Linked DNA regions of Homo sapiens: all the other regions are reported to be linked to region 4. Evidence: microRNA targets listed by miRTarBase, many of them from high-throughput screens and not tested one by one. Region 4 holds a microRNA gene; each other region holds the end of a gene's coding sequence.
What was found. The annotated mature microRNA hsa-miR-6074 reads GAUAUUCAGAGGCUAGGUGG and lies in region 4 at 1,744-1,763, shown strand. An mRNA with a match to its seed (bases 2 to 7 or 8) in the 3' UTR can be bound and repressed. Matches are read on the target gene's strand: a 7mer-m8 pairs with bases 2 to 8, a 7mer-A1 pairs with bases 2 to 7 and ends in A, and an 8mer does both.

Region 1: the mRNA of ZSWIM6 is a reported target of hsa-miR-6074. Seed matches in the 3' UTR shown: 7mer-m8 at 1,211-1,217 and 7mer-A1 at 1,622-1,628.
Region 2: the mRNA of ZNF223 is a reported target of hsa-miR-6074. The part of its 3' UTR that is shown has no 7-base or 8-base seed match.
Region 3: the mRNA of ROBO4 is a reported target of hsa-miR-6074. Seed matches in the 3' UTR shown: 7mer-A1 at 1,126-1,132.
Region 5: the mRNA of SERTM1 is a reported target of hsa-miR-6074. Seed matches in the 3' UTR shown: 8mer at 2,399-2,406.
Region 6: the mRNA of DYNLT1 is a reported target of hsa-miR-6074. Seed matches in the 3' UTR shown: 7mer-m8 at 466-472.

What each region holds. Positions count from the first base shown.
Region 1 is chr5:61,543,776-61,546,881 of GRCh38, forward strand. It overlaps ZSWIM6 (zinc finger SWIM-type containing 6), which reads left to right. Exons shown (of 14, transcript NM_020928.2): 14 at 1-2,397. The coding sequence ends at 542. Among named protein-coding and RNA genes, the nearest start is that of LINC03122, 92 kb to the right of the region's middle.
Region 2 is chr19:44,066,834-44,069,939 of GRCh38, reverse strand. It overlaps ZNF223 (zinc finger protein 223), which reads right to left. Exons shown (of 5, transcript NM_013361.6): 5 at 1,941-3,106. The coding sequence ends at 2,663. Among named protein-coding and RNA genes, the nearest start is that of ZNF284, 3.8 kb to the left of the region's middle.
Region 3 is chr11:124,882,076-124,885,172 of GRCh38, reverse strand. It overlaps ROBO4 (roundabout guidance receptor 4), which reads left to right. Exons shown (of 18, transcript NM_019055.6): 17 at 1-132; 18 at 260-1,482. The coding sequence ends at 282. Among named protein-coding and RNA genes, the nearest start is that of ROBO4, 14 kb to the left of the region's middle. RefSeq lists a silencer at 2,106-2,400.
Region 4 is chr12:66,022,307-66,025,412 of GRCh38, reverse strand. MIR6074 (microRNA 6074) reads left to right here and starts at 1,687; the gene lies at 1,687-1,793.
Region 5 is chr13:36,694,864-36,697,969 of GRCh38, forward strand. It overlaps SERTM1 (serine rich and transmembrane domain containing 1), which reads left to right. Exons shown (of 2, transcript NM_203451.3): 2 at 43-2,976. The coding sequence starts at 216. The coding sequence ends at 539. The region is part of intron 6 of LOC102723490 (a long non-coding RNA gene); the gene reads right to left. Among named protein-coding and RNA genes, the nearest start is that of SERTM1, 22 kb to the left of the region's middle.
Region 6 is chr6:158,633,966-158,637,071 of GRCh38, reverse strand. DYNLT1 (dynein light chain Tctex-type 1) reads left to right here. Exons shown (of 5, transcript NM_006519.4): 5 at 175-598. The coding sequence ends at 245. It overlaps TMEM181 (transmembrane protein 181), which reads right to left. Exons shown (of 17, transcript NM_001376852.1): 17 at 1,643-3,106. Among named protein-coding and RNA genes, the nearest start is that of DYNLT1, 9.2 kb to the left of the region's middle.

The DNA.
Region 1 (3,106 bases), not on the chromosome of region 4:
ACATGGAGCACCGCGGGTACCCCATGAGGGCCTACAAGCTGGCCACCCTGGCCATGACCCATCTCAACCTGAGCTACAATCAGGACACACACCCTGCCATTAATGATGTTTTGTGGGCCTGTGCGCTTAGCCACTCCCTTGGTAAAAATGAGCTTGCAGCTATAATACCTCTGGTGGTCAAGAGTGTCAAGTGTGCAACGGTACTGTCAGACATTTTGCGCAGATGCACTCTGACCACTCCTGGCATGGTGGGACTTCATGGGAGGAGGAACTCTGGTAAGCTCATGTCACTGGACAAAGCCCCCTTGAGGCAACTCTTGGATGCCACGATCGGGGCCTACATCAACACAACGCACTCACGGCTCACACACATCAGTCCTCGGCACTATAGTGAGTTTATAGAGTTCCTCAGCAAAGCCCGAGAGACCTTCTTAATGGCGCATGATGGACACATTCAGTTTACACAGTTTATTGACAACCTGAAACAAATCTACAAAGGCAAAAAGAAACTGATGATGTTGGTTCGGGAGAGGTTTGGTTGATAGATCTTGTATGAATGGGGTGGGGGGTGGGGATGGGAGGGATGGTTTGTTTTTACTTGAGCCTGCCTTTGTACCCTTTTTAACTTAAAGAACAGAGCCACACCGGTATTATATGTGTATAGTTATATTGCGTTTGCAGACTAAATTGTCATGTTGTGAAAGTTTGTGTGTTTTTTATTTTTTCCCTATTTCTTTCTTTCCTTTATTTTATTATTTTTTTTAATTTTTTTTTTCTGGTTTTGTATGAGAGAGAGGTTAAAAAGGTTTGGTTTACACTGAGTATATGTTGTCAAGTGGCAAAAGTCCACATAGCTCTCCTGTTTTCTGTATACGTTCACAGCCTCAAAAAAAATAATTGAAATGGCTTTAAAAACCAAACAAAACACCTCCATCCTGTGATAAGTACCTCGAATGGATTCAGCTTTACTCCTTTGTAACTCATCTTTACATTTTCAGCATATTTAAACAAACCAACAAAATGAAATACTAATAGTAAAAAGGCTGACCCATGTGGCTTTGCAGTGCTGTTCGTCCAGAAGCATGGCACACGATGCTTGTGCATGTGGAAACTTAGCGACTGTCAACATACATTCTCAGGGATTTATCCAAAAAAATTAAAAAAAGAATGAGAGCATTTATTGTACTGTATATATATTATAGTATATGTCTGAATATTGAAAATATAACATTAACTAATTTATAAAAAATATTCTATGTAATGCAAAATACTTGAAGCTGCAGTAGCTTGGTTTTAAACAAAAACAAAAAAAAAACTGAGAGAAAACCTATCAGAAGGACTAAAAGTACGCCTTGCTTCAGGGTTGGCTCAGGTGGTGAACTTCATGCTGGGCATCTATGCAGAGCCACCTTTTGGATTGCATGGTTGGACTGAGATCTATTGGGAGAAATTATATATGTATATATATTTATACAACTTATGTATACATATATATATGTATACACACAGACACACACACACACCACCAACAACCACCACTACACCACACATGCTTATAACAGGCACTAGAATAAAGAGGGACAACAAAATACACAGCCAGAGCAGCAAGCCTTAGCATTAAGAATATACAATATGCCGGAATTGGGGTTCGTGCCTCCTAGCCTAGGAAACTTAAAAGAAATATCCTTTTGACACAAAACACAAAATGTTTTCCAAAACAATTGACATAATGATACATTACGCCTTTGCAGTGAGCTAATAATAAGCTAACCTTTGTGCACAAATAACATTATATATATTATATATCTATTCTGCATAGGTATTTTGACTTTGTGCAGGACAGAAAGTTGTGTAGGTATGACTGTTCTACTTTTCAGTTTTCTTTTTTTTTAATATATTTTATTTTCTCTAGAAATTACTCAAACAAAAGCAGCCTTCTATCTTGCCTTGTCTTAATGCTTTAAAATAACCAAACTGGAGATCTAACTACCAAACTGTTCATTATATTATTAAATACCAACTTTGGTTACAGTATAGTGTCTTTACTTTAGCTGATGGTTCTGTAACCTTGTGCTTTTTAAAGCAATTTTTATGTTTTGGTGCAAAAGTTGTCCAGTGTCTCTTGTTCCCTTCACTAGAGAACATGCTTAGAGGTATGTTTGTAGGTATTTTTGTTTAGAAGAACTATTTCATGCGCTCCATTTTATTTATTATAATAGGTAAAAAGAAAAAAAAAGGTTGTAATTCATCACCCATGTAAACATGCTCATGAAGTTGAAAGTAATTAAGATTTGATACACTGATATCAATTTATTTATGTAACTAAATCACTGTTTTATAAACTTGTTAATGATCAACAATTTTTGTTTTGATTAAAATTAGTTTTTTGAAAGTTGATTCTGCCTCCTTTATGGTATATCTCTTATTGCACCTGAATTTGGTGATTATAGACTTGGGTAGTACTACGCCTCCAAGTGTCTAATACTATATTGACTCATCCAGTAAACGTTTATGTGCTATTTTCCAGGCACTGTGCTAGGCCCTGGAAATGTAATGGTGAACAAAATCAGACCCTGGACCTCACTGTCTGCTTAATGGAGAAGGCAGACATAAGCCAAATAATCACAAAGATAAAATATGAAACAGAATAGTCTGTTTTCTGTCTGAACCCTTGGTCGTTCCTCTAATAAGCTATAATTTAGGATGCTCAGTACTTAATATATTTAATAAAGGCTGAGTTTGTGAGATTTTCTTGTGTGTGTGGTTTAAAAGGAAGTTACATTATAAAGGGCAGATGCTACATGCACACCATAGTCACTTGTATCCAGTATTTCCATCAAGGATCTGTACCCAAAATGATGCAAATAGTTTTTGCGTGTATGTGGTTAAAAACAACATCACATAATTTACCATCTTAGGCATTTTGAAGTGTACAGTTCAGCAGTGTTAAAAATATTTACAAAGTTGTAAAACAGATCTCCAGAATTTTCTCATCTTGCAGAACTGAACTCTATATGCCCATTATGTGACTGCCCTTTTTCTCCTCCCTCCAGCCCCTGCTAGCCACAGCACTCTTGCTTTCTACTGTTACGATATTGTCTGTGAT
Region 2 (3,106 bases), not on the chromosome of region 4:
GATAAATACAAATCAAAACTACCATGAGATATCCCACTCCAGTTAAAATAGCTTTTATTCAAAAGACAGGCAATATCAAATGTTGGTGAGGATGTGGAAGGAGTGAAGGAGGGAATCCTCGCACATTGTTGGTGGGAATGTAAATTAGTAGAACCACTGCGGAGAACAGTATGGAGGTTCCTCAAAAAATTAAAACTATATCAAAGTGATATCTGCACCCTCCCCTGCAATGTTTATTGCAGCACTATTCACAATAACCAAAATTTGGAAGCAACCTAAGTATGCATCAACAGGTGAATGGATACAGGAAATGGACATATACACAATGGAGTACTATTCAGCCACAAAAAGAATGAGATTTTGTTATTTGCAACAATATGGATGGAATTGGAAGGACATTACATTCAGTGAAATAAGTCAGGCACAGAAAGACAAACTTCACATCTTCTCACTTATTTGTAGGAGCTAAAAATTAAAACAATTGAATGCATGGAGACAGAGAGCAGAATGTTGGTTACCAGAGGGAGGGAAAGTTAAGGTTGGTGGTGAGGGAAGTGGGGATGGTTAGTGGGTACAAAACTATGCTTAGATAGAATGAATAAGATCTGGTATTTGATAGCACAACAGAGTTACAGTCAATAATAATTTATTGTACATTTGAAATAACTAAACGAGTACGGATTGTTTCTAACACACACAAAAATCTGATAAATGCTTGTGGTAACAGATACCCCATTTACCCTGATATGATTATTATGCATTGTATGCCTGTATCAACATATATACTCCATATGTGTACCCATAAAAATTAGGATTTTTTTTTTTTAGGCTGAGTGCAGTGGCTCATGCCTGTAATCCCAGCACTTTGGGAGGCTGAGGTGGGCAGATTACTTGAGTGCAGTAGTTCGAGACCAGCCTGGGCAACATGGAGGAACCTCATCTCTATAAAAAAATACAAAACTTAACCAGAGGCTGTGGTGCACGCCTGTAGTCTCAGCTGCTCAAGAGGCTGAGGTGGAAGGATGGTTTGAGCCCAGGAGGCCACCACATCCAGCTAGTTGTATTTTTAGTAAAGACAGACTTTCACCATGTTGGCCAGGCTGGTCTTGAACTCCTGGCCTCAAGTAAACTGCCCACCTCAGCCTCCCAAAGTGCTGGAATTACAGGCATGACACTGCACCCAGCCCTTTGCCCATTTTTTTAATTGAGTGGTTTCTGTTATTGAGTTGTAAGAATTCTTTATATAATCTGGATAGTAGAACTCATGCTGTATGGTCTTTTCATGTTCATGACAATGTCCATGTATGCACAGCATTTTTTAAAACCTAGGTCCCATTTAGGTATTTATATTTGCTTTTGCTTATGTTGTTTCATTGAAGAATCCATTCCAAATAAAGTCAGGAAGATTTACTTCTATGTTTTCTTCTAATACTTTTATAGTTTAGCTGTTACATTAGGTCACTGATGAATTTTGAGTTAACTTTTAAGTGTAGGGTGAGGTACAATCTAACTTCATTATGTTGTGTGTCTGTGTATAGGTGTCCCAGCAGTATTGGTCGAAGAGACTATTCTGTCTCCATAAAGTAATCTTGGATCCTTCTTGAAAATCAAGTGGCCTTAGATGTATGGGTTTCTTTATGGACTCTCACTTCTATTCCATTTGTATATATATCTGCCTCCTGGGTTGAAGCGATCCTCCCACTTCAGCCTCTCCAGTAGTCTCCAGCTGGGACTACAGACATACACCAACACAACTGGCTAATTATTGTATTTCTTGTAGAGATGGGGTTTCTGATGTTCACTGAGAAATCTAAAAATAATGCATACAATTATAAAATAGAAAAATACCAGCAAATATTCACTGCTGAAGAAAATAAGAATATAATTGTAACACACTATGTATGTACACTCAAAAAAAAAATTCCAGAAACACAGAGAGATGCTTGTCTAGAAACAAAGAAAGGTATTTATTTAATTTTTTTTTTTGGAGACAGGGTCTCACTCTGTTGCCCTGGCTGGAGTGCAGTAGCACTACCATAGGTCAGTGCAGCCTCAATCTTCCAGACTCAAGCAATGTAAGGATGCAGCAAAAATACAAAGACACATGTGGCTGACATTCTAGTGGTCATCAATTTTGACATGTTCATCATTAGTGTTTTGAAAGTGTGTGAACAAACTCTTATACTAAGACCTGTCTCCTGAATAATAACTAATTGTCAAACTTCTGTTAGAAACCCTGCAGCATTCTCTGCTCTGACAGTCCCACGACCACTGGGGTATGCTGAGCTATGGCTGAAACACTAACTTCAAACTGTCCTCAATCACATGGGGAAGCTTAAAAAGCTGATTTCTTAGAAGTAGTGAGAACAGTGGCTCTAGAGGCAGGGAAGGGTAAGGGATAGGTGGGATGGCCAAAGGTTGGCTAATGGATGCAAAAGTACAGGTAGATAAGAGGAAGAAGTTCTGCTGTTCTGCAGCACTAAAGGTGACTATCATCGACAACAATTTATTTTCAAACTGCTGGAACAATGAATTTTTAATTTTCTCAACACAAAAAAGAGATAATTGAGGTGATAAATGTGCTAATTACACTGATTTGATCATTATACATCATATACATATATTTAAATATCACACTGTACCCCATAAATATGTACAACACTTACGTGTCATTTAAAAATAATGATAAAATTATATCAAGATTCAAGCGCCTCTTGTAGCGCTTCCCACAGTCTTCACATTTGGATGGATTTTCTCCACTGTGGTTTTTTTGTTGGTCTTTACGGTATGACCGGTATACAAGCTTCTTTCCACAATCCTCACATTTGAATGGTTTTTTTCGGCAATGGAGTCTCTTATGATTCAAAATACTTGAGGCCTGTCTAAAGCTCTTCCCACAGTCATCACAGTTATAAGGTCTCTCTCCTGTGTGGGCTCTATGGTGCAAGTCAAGACCTGACTTAGTAATGTAGCTCTTCCCACACTTGTCACATTTGTATGGCTTTTCTCCAGTGTGGACTCGCTGATGGATCAAAAGATAGGAGGACCGTCTGAAGCTCTTCCCACATTCTTTACAATTATATGGTTTCTCTCCTGTGTGGATCGT
Region 3 (3,097 bases), not on the chromosome of region 4:
GGCCAGACTGGTTGGAAGACATGGAGGTCAGCCACACCCAGCGGCTGGGAAGGGGGATGCCTCCCTGGCCCCCTGACTCTCAGATCTCTTCCCAGAGAAGTCAGCTCCACTGTCGTATGCCCAAGGCTGGTGGTGAGTGTCTGTCTTCCTGGCTAATGTGTTCATCTTGACCAGAGGGCCTCTGGGAAGAAGCCAGGAGGAAGCCTGGCACTGGGGAAGGGAGATAAGGAGCAAGGGAGATAACTCCACTGTCCTTCAGCTTCTCCTGTAGATTACTCCTGAACCGTGTCCCTGAGACTTCCCAGACGGGAATCAGAACCACTTCTCCTGTCCACCCACAAGACCTGGGCTGTGGTGTGTGGGTCTTGGCCTGTGTTTCTCTGCAGCTGGGGTCCACCTTCCCAAGCCTCCAGAGAGTTCTCCCTCCACGATTGTGAAAACAAATGAAAACAAAATTAGAGCAAAGCTGACCTGGAGCCCTCAGGGAGCAAAACATCATCTCCACCTGACTCCTAGCCACTGCTTTCTCCTCTGTGCCATCCACTCCCACCACCAGGTTGTTTTGGCCTGAGGAGCAGCCCTGCCTGCTGCTCTTCCCCCACCATTTGGATCACAGGAAGTGGAGGAGCCAGAGGTGCCTTTGTGGAGGACAGCAGTGGCTGCTGGGAGAGGGCTGTGGAGGAAGGAGCTTCTCGGAGCCCCCTCTCAGCCTTACCTGGGCCCCTCCTCTAGAGAAGAGCTCAACTCTCTCCCAACCTCACCATGGAAAGAAAATAATTATGAATGCCACTGAGGCACTGAGGCCCTACCTCATGCCAAACAAAGGGTTCAAGGCTGGGTCTAGCGAGGATGCTGAAGGAAGGGAGGTATGAGACCGTAGGTCAAAAGCACCATCCTCGTACTGTTGTCACTATGAGCTTAAGAAATTTGATACCATAAAATGGTAAAGACTTGAGTTCTGTGAGATCATTCCCCGGAGCACCATTTTTAGGGGAGCACCTGGAGAGATGGCAAGAATTTCCTGAGTTAGGCAGGGATCAGGCATTCATTGACACTCAGGGAGTGTCACACATTTCTGTTCTGCAATTAAAGGGAGAATGAGGTTCATCCACCAAATTTTAAGCAGAATATAGGAAGGGCAGGGGTGGGGAGTTTCAGGGTCTGCTGGTCCTGGCAACTTATATTAAATCCACCTCCTCAAGATAAGCCTTAGGGATATTTATGGCTGAGGGAAGTGGGATGGTCTAAGGCATGGGGAAGGGTGATTGGCTGTGGGGAAAATGAAGTAATAGGTTCATTCTGCCCAAGTGTACTTGGGGTTCATGGCATTTCATAAGGACATTTGTGTAGAAAATTGTTTTGCTGGCTGGGCACGGTGGCTCACGCCTGTAATCCCAGCACTTTGGGAGGCGGAGGTAGGCAGATCATGAGGTCAGGAGATCGAGACCATCCTGGCTAACATGGTGAAACCCCGTCTCTACTAAAAAAAAAAAAAAAATACAAAAAATTAGCCAGGCGTGGTGGCGGGAGCCTGTAGTCCCAGCTACTCAGGAAGCTGAGGCAGGAGAATGGTGTGAACCCGGGAGGCGGAGCTTGCAGTGAGCCGAGATCGCCCACTGCACTCCAGCCTGGGTGAGAGAGAGAGACTCGGTCTCAAAAAAAAAAAAAGAAAAAAAAAAAAGAAAAGAAAATGGTTGTGTTATGATCTGAGGGTGGAGTTTTTGGCCCTCCGATGTCAAAAGGCCACCCCTCGAGCACTTGCAGAGGCCCAGTAGAAAAGTCGGTGGTCTCGATTGGTTTGAGCTGGACAAGAGCTGTCCCAAGTTCCTGAAAAATGACTGTAGCGCCCATTCTCATAGTGACCTATGAATGTTACCTATAAAGTAGCCAGTGAAGGTTGTTTCCACATTCAGCAGCGAGGCCTTCAGCTACCAAAGAAGCTTTGTGCTCCATGGAAAAAGGGAAAAAACAAAAAGCAAGCAGGGCAGGCAGACTTGATCAAATTAACCCCTTGATTTCACCCATCCTGAGGAGAAAACTGCTTTCAGCAGTCCCAGATGGTTTCTTAAAATAGACAAAGCAGCTGAACTCCAGAAAAGGTAGAACCACCTGTCACGGTTGGCTTAGGAACACCCTTCAAAGAAAAAAACAGAACAGAGAGATGAACCTCGAAGCAGGACTTCCAGGGCCTGAGCCACAGGAGGCACTGGAGGGTAGGCAGGCCTGCGTCTTCCTCCCTTGGCGGGAAAGGTCGGGGGCAGAATCCACAAGTTGGTGGAGGGGATGCTACAGAGCATGACAGGGCCACAGGAAGCAGAGCCTAAAAGGGGGTGCTCATCCCTCAAACCCAGCAGCTCTACTTGGAGGCCACTGGGAGTTGAGAGGCTGAATGAGGCAGGACCATGGGGACTGGGGGCTTCCTGAACCACATTAATCAGGACAGTCTGGGCCAGATTTTTGTGATCTCAGGAGGAAGAATCAGTATTCCACATACACATCTGTTCCTCTGTATTTGCTTTTCCTTATCTGGATTTTGTGGCAGTTGCGGGGAGGAGGTTGTTTTGGTTTCTTTTTAGCTTCCTGGTAAAATTCCTTTTGAAAACATCCCAACCCTGTTTGCCAGACTGAAAGGGAAAGAGAGATTTGTACACTCACAGGTCAAAGGGGCAGACGAGGTCAGGGCCTGGGACTGGAGGGCAGCTGCCAATCCCAGAGAGTCCAGGGAAGTCACTGAGTCAAGGGTGGAGCAAGCGAGAAGGAACAAAACCTCAGGTCACCAGTGAGCACACGGGATGCAGGGCAGGAGGTGACGAGGACCACGGCATTCACCACAAAAAAGTCTTAACAGTTCTGTGCCCATCAACCCAATCACATCTGGGCCCACCAAGAGCTGCCCATTTGTACATACCCTCTGTGACGGAGTCAGATGGTTTGAAAAAGCATGCTCTTCCTTCTTGCCTGGGGTTTCTCCCATAAGCTCCTCCTTTCTTTGAGTTTTTCAAAATAATTTTTTGTGAGGGGTGTATTTTCTTGTGGGAAAGTAGACAGACCCCAGAGGAGGGCACTAAAGAAGGGCCTGGCTTGACCTTCCAAAGGT
Region 4 (3,106 bases):
GAAGGAAATCTTCTCAAGGTTGCTGTATGCTCTGTGTGTGTTGTATGTCAAATAAGGTATAATGTTATGTTCTCTCATAACTTCATAAATAAGAATGTATTGCTTTGAGAGATGGAATAAAATGACAAGTTTTATTTGGCATCTATATATTTAAGAGTTCATGAAGAGATTAATGGTTGTTGGCCGCTGGTCAAATTTCTTTGATGTACACTATTTTTTTCCACTAAAATTCTGCACTTGCCACTCCCTGGATGAGTTACCCACACATTTATGTACATAAATTATGGTGCATTTATTACATCATTTCCAACCTAGCTGGATAAAAGCACAGTGGGATTTTTTTCCCTGTGTGCAATTTCCATTTTGGTGGCATTTCTGCTTCCTAACAAATTCCAGACAGTCAAAGTAGACACCCAAATTCTGTTTTTATGTATTTCAGCTTTCTGTGTTCACCTACACTTTGTTTGGGAGATGTCCTACTGGGAAGTTACTTAGATTTATGAATATTTGATGAGCTTTTTGCAGAAATGGGGGTCTGGAGACTCATATAATCTCATTGTATGTAGTATACTTTTTCCTTTTTTACTCTGTACTTCAATTTTTGATAACTTGGATGTGGTATTTAATAACCTATTGACTTAATTTTATTATTTACTAATAGTTTCAACTTTGATCTCTTTCGGAAGGATGTTGTCGGAAGGATGTTGAAAAAAATCCAAAATGAGTTCTGGAGCAGATATAAAATGTATCTCCTCTATTCATATATCTATATATATACGTTGATCTTCAAAGATAGGCCAACTTTCTAACTTCTGTCACTTTATTAGCATGGAATGCAAAGGTGCTCAAATGCCCTCAAGTGGTCTCAGCCCACATTAACCTCTTTCTGTTACTTCTTTTCCTTATTTCTCTGCATACTGAACGCAGAATTTGGCTTTTTCTGCTGCTTAAAATTAACATCTAACGGAGGAGTGTCTACGTATTTTTGTCCTGGTGTTTCTCATATTTTAATACTAACACAGCGCTGAATAATGTTTGCTGTGCAAATAAAAATTTAAACAAATGCCAGACCGATAAGGTTAGTTTTTTGACTTTGCCTAAACAATAAACAAAACAAGAAACACATTAAAACCTAAACATGTAATCTCTCAAAGTAAAAAAATATTTTAAAGTTGTACTCAACATACCCACTTATGGGTTAAGGATATAGTAATATAAATTTTATTAGATTGAGGAAGAAATCACTCTACCCTCTGAAAAGATGTAGATAGTCATATAATTCAGGTAGTCAGTTTAATGGGCTAGGCTCCCGGGTTCATGCAAATTCACAGAGAAATCTCAGAGCATAAAAATTTTGGTCAATAGCTTTATTGTTATTATTGTTAGATGGAGTCTCGCTCTGTTGCCCAGGCTGGAGTGCGGTGGCGTGATCTCGGCTCACTGCAACCTCCGCCTCCCAGGTTCAAGTGATTCTCCTGCTTCAGTCTCCTGAGTAGCTGGGACTACAGGCACCCGCCACCATGCCCAGCTAGTTATTTTTTGTATTTTTAGTAGATACAGGGTTTTACCATATTGGCCAGGCTGGTCTCAAACTCCTGACCTCAGGTGATCTGCCCGCCTCAGCCTCCCAAAGTGCTGGGATTACAGGCATGAGCCACCATGCCCAGCCTGGTCAATAGTTTTAACTACCAACCCCATGGAATTTTTACTCACCTTCAGTCAACTGATTTGCTCTTTGGTGGAGATATTCAGAGGCTAGGTGGAGATAGAGGTAGCCTTGAGGGTGGGTGTGGAGAAAGAGCCCCTAAACCAACAGACAGGAAAATATCTGAAAAGTGACTACCATATATACAACACAGCCAATTCTGATACTAAACTTTCTACTCTAAGAAAATCACTTCCATTAAAAAACAAAAAAAAAAGCTAATAAACAAAGGAAAGCTACCCCAGCTCTTAGGATTAAGGAATAATTATTTGCAGATAGAGTTTTTGTTTATGCAAAGCTCCTTCTCAATCCTTCTCAATCTTTTTTTTAACTCAGTAATCTCGACTGCATTGAAAACTAGCTCACTTAAAAAATTGTTTTAGAACAAAGTTTTAGTAGATGTACTTTGTGTGTTTTATACAGTTTGTGCGATGCATATTGTAAAATGCTATAATTACATTTTGTAGTGACGTTTTTCCTTTCTACCATGTAAGAAATTCTGTTTTCTTATTCCCAAGGATAAAAATATGGTGGCTTTTTTTATTTGAACCAATCTGAACATTATGCTCAGAGCCAAGCAGAATAAGCAAAGCTTATTTACTGAAAGGAATATTAGGATAATGGGCAGTATTGAAAAGTTACTTAAAATTAACATCTAAAGGAGTAGTGTCTACGTATTTTTGTCCTGTCAGATTTTCTGCTATGTTAGCAAAGGCGGAAAAGTTTAGGTATAAATGAAGAGAAGGAGAAATAGTATATGAGGTTAAAGAAATGAATAATATCTTCAAATAAGGTCATATAAAAAAGTAATGAATAAATGGTATGTAATAAGAGAAATCCAATATTATATCAACACTTCCAAAGAGGCTCAGAGCAAGAGATGACATTGTCTTTCAGCTCAACTATGCCAGATGCCAGAAAGGGTAAAGCTCTATGTTTGCTGAGACTACTCTTGCTCTTGGACCCTGACAAGATTGAATGAGAAGGCTGCAAACCTGAGTGGCCTTGCTCTGAGAGACATATTCACATGACATAAGAGTGGACTGGACTAATTATTAAAGATTAAATGGGATTCCAATAATTTGCCAGTACCATTTGAGTTGTACATTTTTTTAATGTAAGGGATCTGTGTTGGAGGATAGGGAGTGAACTGTTATTTTATGGGATATATATTGGGTCCTTGTTTCCTGGCATTCAGCTTCTAAAGTCCTTGGAATCTCCAAAGTAATAAGTGTGTTTTTGAATGCTAATGAGATTACTGGTGACTGGCAACCTTTAGATGGCTTCAGGATGAGGGCTGGTCACAGGAAAGACCAAGGCAGGATTAGAGGGTTGGGACTTCAGCCCCACCCTTCAACCTCTGGGAAGGAGAGAGGGACTGAAAGTCAAGTTGATCACCAA
Region 5 (3,106 bases), not on the chromosome of region 4:
TGATTTTTCTGAAGAATGCACTGACTTGCTTTTTTTTTTCAGTCTCAATGCACATCTGATACCTGCTGCCTTTGAGAAACAAGTTTTGTTGTGCTGATTTAACAGCCTGTGAATTCTGCAAACACGATCGTGAAAAAATGCCAATCTGTCCTGTGTAAGCCCTGTGTGAAGTTTTGACTTTAATCTACCAGATCACTCCTTCACCCTCCATAAAGATGTCTGAACCTGACACTTCCTCAGGATTTTCGGGAAGTGTGGAGAATGGAACTTTTCTTGAGCTGTTTCCCACATCCCTGTCCACGTCAGTGGACCCATCCTCAGGCCACCTGTCAAACGTCTACATCTATGTGTCCATATTCCTCAGCCTTTTAGCGTTTCTGCTTCTGCTTTTAATCATTGCCCTCCAGAGGCTCAAAAATATCATCTCCTCCAGTTCCTCCTACCCAGAGTATCCAAGCGACGCTGGAAGTTCTTTCACCAATTTGGAAGTCTGCAGCATTTCCTCTCAGAGGTCCACTTTTTCAAACCTTTCATCCTGAGGAAAATGGAAGAGTCCTTGAGTGTGGCAGCAGTTTTGACATCCCCTTACGGAAGTGTCCCGTGAGGCATTGCCTCATGAAAGAAATGATCCTTTTGGTGTAGACCTGCTTCTCCTTCTCCTTTTTCTCTGATTTCTTTTCTGTTCATGATGCTTTTCATTTGGGGATGGAGACACCGATGTTGGTGGAAATGTGTGCAAACCCCAAGGTGCAGAATTTCACACAAATGGCTTGATGAATCTAGACTGGGCTTCTTCAGGTAAGTCAGTTCATTCTACTTTGTTGGACGCCGTAGGCTCATCTGAGGTGGCCTCTCCGTGGATGCTGGACATGGACTCGCACTTCATTTCTTTTACAAAGCCGTGAAATCAACTGAGCCTGCAGAAACTGGCAAAATCAAGTCTGACCTATGTAGAAGTTATTTTCCATATTTAAAAGATAAAGTGGAGACACCAAACTTAAAAAGGAAGAGAGTCAATTTAGATTTAATGTATGACATTTCTAAAACTGAGGGTAAATATATGCTAAATATTTTCTTTAACTTCACTTTAACAAGTAAAAATCACACTTATTGATGAATGTAAGTCATTTGGGAAAGTTTTGGAAGAGTTTACATTTTAATAGCAAGACAAACATGTATTATGATGGAGCTTGTGATGTATTTCTGCCTCCTGGAGTTTTATTTTGTTTTTCTGCTTATGTTTTAGTCATAATGCCACAAAGTTGTGGAATTTTTGTGATTAATTGCTGTTACTAGTACTAAGAGAAGCACCAGAAGAGATGCCAAGAAGTTTTTATATGAATAATTTCTATCAGTGAGAATTAAGCATATGGAAAATATTCATTTAGTTGTATTTTATACAGTAATAACTCTTAGCTGTCGTGTAAGTTCCTTTATTCGGTTTCATAGTCTTTATAATTTTAGTGCAGAATTATATTAAGCCTCCAAGATGTCTGATATTTGTTCACTCACATTAGGTTGTAAAACTTAGAAACTAAATTGCAAATATATGTGTTATTATATACTCCACGAATGTTGCGTCTCTGATAATTAGTTGTTGTATGTTAACATAATACTCTACATTAGGATTTCAGGATGTGAGTTTGTATTAAAAATTGTAGGCACTCAAGTTGTGTAGCTGCTGGGAGCTTTAGGGATCCTAGGAGCTGCCGTGCTGCAGGCAGCAGAGTATGTCTGAACTCGGCGGGCGGGTGGCAGGGGCTGTCTGTGAAATTAGGCACACATGTGAGCTCAGACATGGAATGTGGAGGAACTCAAGCTGCCCCTAAAAACAAAACAATCAAACTGCAGCTCCTTAAGAGTAAGAATTTTAATTTAATTTTGAAAATAAATGGCCCACAGGGTAAACACTGAACTTATTCAACCTACAGGAGGCCACTGCATCAACACGCCACGGTCTTCCCATGGCAACTGAATCATTCCTTGTTCAAAACATTTAATCATCTTAAGCAGTGGGGCTTCAACACACCGTTTGGTTAGATTGTGCAGTCAGCACTCTCCAGTGATTAGAATGGGGGAAAGAATCCACTATTTGTACAGGGTTTATCTTTATCATACTAAAATGCTGAGTGAGTGGAGGTCTGGGAATGAAAATCAGAAGTCTTCTTCTTCTTTTAATTCATAAGCCTCACTTAAATCAGAACACATTTAACTATTTATATATCAAAAACGTCCCCAAACACCATAAGACCAGCACAGAGTTGCTGCCCTAAAATGTATAATTAGTGAAAAATTTACCTCTGCTTCCATTTAAAGCATGGCAGTGGGTTGGGTGTCATTATGTAGTATAAAAACTGGACTAGATAAACTGCTATTTTAGAGCATTATTAGCATTCTCTGAATATATGTATATATACATATATATACGCACACACACACACACACATAAATATATATATATATATATATATATAAACTCACATACTCCCAATTAAAAGTCGTGTGAAAGCTACACAGGATTACAGAGGCATCTATATTATCACTTTTGCTCTTTGACTAATCCTATGCTGTTTTTGTTATAGAGAGAAACAAGGACATGGATGAAGTGATTTTTTTTTAAATAAAAGGACAAATTTGCCACACAACAGAACAATCTGAGTATGATCTGTCCTCAGGGTATCTTTATATCCTTTCCATGTGAAAGAGATATAAAGAATTCTGACAGCAAAACTACTTTAAAAATCAAATCAAATCAAATCCACAAGCACACTCCCATTCCTCCCCTGCCGCAATGGTTCTTGCTCTCAATGTTTAGTAGAGAAATTAAGAGCCACATTCAAAGATGGAAAATAAGATTTGTCATTAGAAGCTTGCCAAGGTAACAGATTGTACAACTTGAGATGAATTCATGTTGTTTAAGAAGTTCAGAAAGGTTGGAAGATGGGTTTATAAATAAAGAAGTGGAGTCCATTGAAAGCCTGGTTCTTTGATTCTTTTCCAGTGAGGTGATTTATAATCTCTTCTAGAGAAGAAGCTTTTCCTAAGAGTTTTAAGCATACACCACACACACACAGAGACGTATAGACATATATTTACATATAAATAT
Region 6 (3,106 bases), not on the chromosome of region 4:
TTTCCTATCTTTGAATGCAATGCATGTTTATCACCTTTTAAAACATTTAATAATAGACTTGCCAAGGTTCTTTGTGTAGCATAGAGATGGGTACTTGAATGTTGGCCTTATTGTGAGTAAAACGTCGTCCCCCAGCTTTCCCTGCCGTAAATGCTGCTCTCTTCCCTCCCGCAGGGAGCTGCACTGTGCGATGGGAGAATAAGACCATGTACTGCATCGTCAGTGCCTTCGGACTGTCTATTTGACCTGCAGTCCAGCCTATGGCCTTTCTCCTTTTGTCTCTAGTTCATCCTCTAACCACCAGCCATGAATTCAGTGAACTCTTTTCTCATTCTCTTTGTTTTGTGGCACTTTCACAATGTAGAGGAAAAAACCAAATGACCGCACTGTGATGTGAATGGCACCGAAGTCAGATGAGTATCCCTGTAGGTCACCTGCAGCCTGCGTTGCCACTTGTCTTAACTCTGAATATTTCATTTCAAAGGTGCTAAAATCTGAAATCTGCTAGTGTGAAACTTGCTCTACTCTCTGAAATGATTCAAATACACTAATTTTCCATACTTTATACTTTTGTTAGAATAAATTATTCAAATCTAAAGTCTGTTGTGTTCTTCATAGTCTGCATAGTATCATAAACGATTTCTTCATAGTGAGTGGCTACAGAATCTATACAACCAGACCAGGCGCAGTGGCTCACACCTGTAATCCCACCACTTTGGGAGGCTGAGGCAGGCGGATCATGAGGTCAGGAGATCAAGACCATCCTGTCTAACACGGTGAAACCCCGTCTCTACTAAAAATACCAAAAATTAGCCAGGTGTGGTGGCGGGCGCCTGTAGTCCCAGCTACTCGGGAGGCTGAGGCAGGAGAGTGGCATGAACCCAGGAGGCAGAGGTTGTAGTGAGCCAAGATCGTGAGCCAAGTTCCCGCCACTGCACTCCAGCCTGGGTGACAAGAGCAAGAGTCCGCCTCAAAAAAAAAAAAAAAAAAAAAAAAAAAAAATATATATATATATATATACAACCAAAAAAAAAAAAGTTCTGCTGTGGTCCTCTCCATGATGTACTCATTTTACCCGTGGGACCAGGATCCTGACGGCTCTGCTGGGTTCTGGTTAGATTCCTACCCCTCGGCATCACACCTCCCATTCTTAAGCCCTCCTCTTCTAGAGGTGAAGGGGTGGGAGGTGGGCAAACCAATTTCTATTCTCTTAGCCAGAGAGCTCTAACTCACACTTGGCCCAAAGCTGTAACACCTTAACTGTTAATCCTGTGTTCTCTGTAGGGCTCACAAATTGTCTTAGTACTTCAGAGCTTACAAAATGGTTTTCACAATCATTCATTCTGTGTCTTCAACAATTTGCAGTCATTTAAAAATCTCAGAAAATGTGTTTGGAGGTTATCTGATTGGTTTAAAGTCACACATCCAAGTTGGGAGCTGGGCCCAAACCCACGCCTTGTCTCCATCTTGAGTGCTCTTCCCCAGGCCACATTAGACATGGCAATAAAGATACCTCCGTGCCTGCCTGCTGAAATGGAAAAGCCCTGCCGTTGTCTCCAAAGCCGCTTTATTAAAGCATTTATGTCTGCAAGGCCAAATTAACTCCACACACAAAGAGCAAACAAATCAAGACACATAGAAGTGAATATTAAAAATTTATTAACATTTCCCAGAAAGGTAGTGTCAGAATTAAGCCATTCGCAAAAGACGAATTTGCCATAAACAAACATTCACTTTTGCCTGATGACAGCAACACTGTGATGGGGTGGCACTGTGCCCCACGGACAGGTCCACAACTGAACACATGGCTCTATCTCTCCTTTTGGGCTTAAAGTTTAGTGTTATTTTATTTTACAAATATTTACAGTCATTTTGTAAAAAGGCAGTTTTTAGTAGCAGAAAATTCTTCTGTTTTATAGTATGGTATCACAGTTACTAGCGTATCTCCAATGTCAAACCAAGATAAACAGCATCACAAGATGTCACAGACTAATACAACTTCCCTTTGGCCAGGGGAAAAGATCTGTATCTTTTTTTTTTTTTCTTCAAAAGTCTAACCTCTAAGGCAACCGGTTTCTAAAACCCTCAAAATACACAAATACACTTTCATGTTTTAAGTCTCATCTTCACTAAATGTTCAGACACATCCGTTTTAATTATCCCTTTTATGAGGGTCTGTGTTTTTCCTGTGATAAAGGATTCAGGAAATAATTTACCACATTATAATCTATTTAACATAACTACCCTCAGTAAATAGTTCATAAAATACTTGAGGCTGGTGACATTTGTCTTGTAACCTGCTCATTTAGTGGGTTGGGTTTACAAAATGTATCTAAGCTTTTATTGCAATCTGCAATTATGTACATTAACAACCTTACAAACCTTGAACATAGTATATATATCCCCTTCTCTAGCCTTTCAAATGGGGCTTAAGAGAGAGAAAATGGCACCACTTCACTGCTATAATGATTTAATAATAAATCAAGCAGACTTATCATCCACATGGATAACGAAGCTCTCCCTAGGGAAACTGAAATACCTCTGGTCATCTTCCAGGTTCTCCTAGACTGGACCAGTATTTAAAAAATCCCAAAGATGATGTTACTCAAGCCATTACCATGAAGGAACTAAAGTCAGCCCTTTAAGTTCGCAAAACTTTAACATAACTACCCTCAGTAAATAATTTATTTTTTCTTCAACAATTTTCTTGCTACTGTCAAAAGTTTCTGGCAGACTTTAGTGTTTTAACCTGATACCTATGGTACATATTCTACATGCCAAGTGCTAGAGAGTTTAAGCAAAATTTTACATGGGGTATGTAATATGTCGGTATTTATGATATACCAGGGAAGACAAGTTGAAAATACATGACTTAGTAAGAACGATTTTCCCCTTAAGTACTTTCTAACTTTTTTTCTTATTTCCCACTTAGTTACAAAAAGTAAATAAATAATCCTATATTTTTCATTTCATTGATGCATGAAGACTCAATGTATGAAGATAATAGTCATCAGTTTATAATTACACTATAGGACAAAGTTTTAAAAAGTTCTAGTGTGTGTATGGCTAAATGCCTCAAATATTTTACATTTACTGATAAATAACA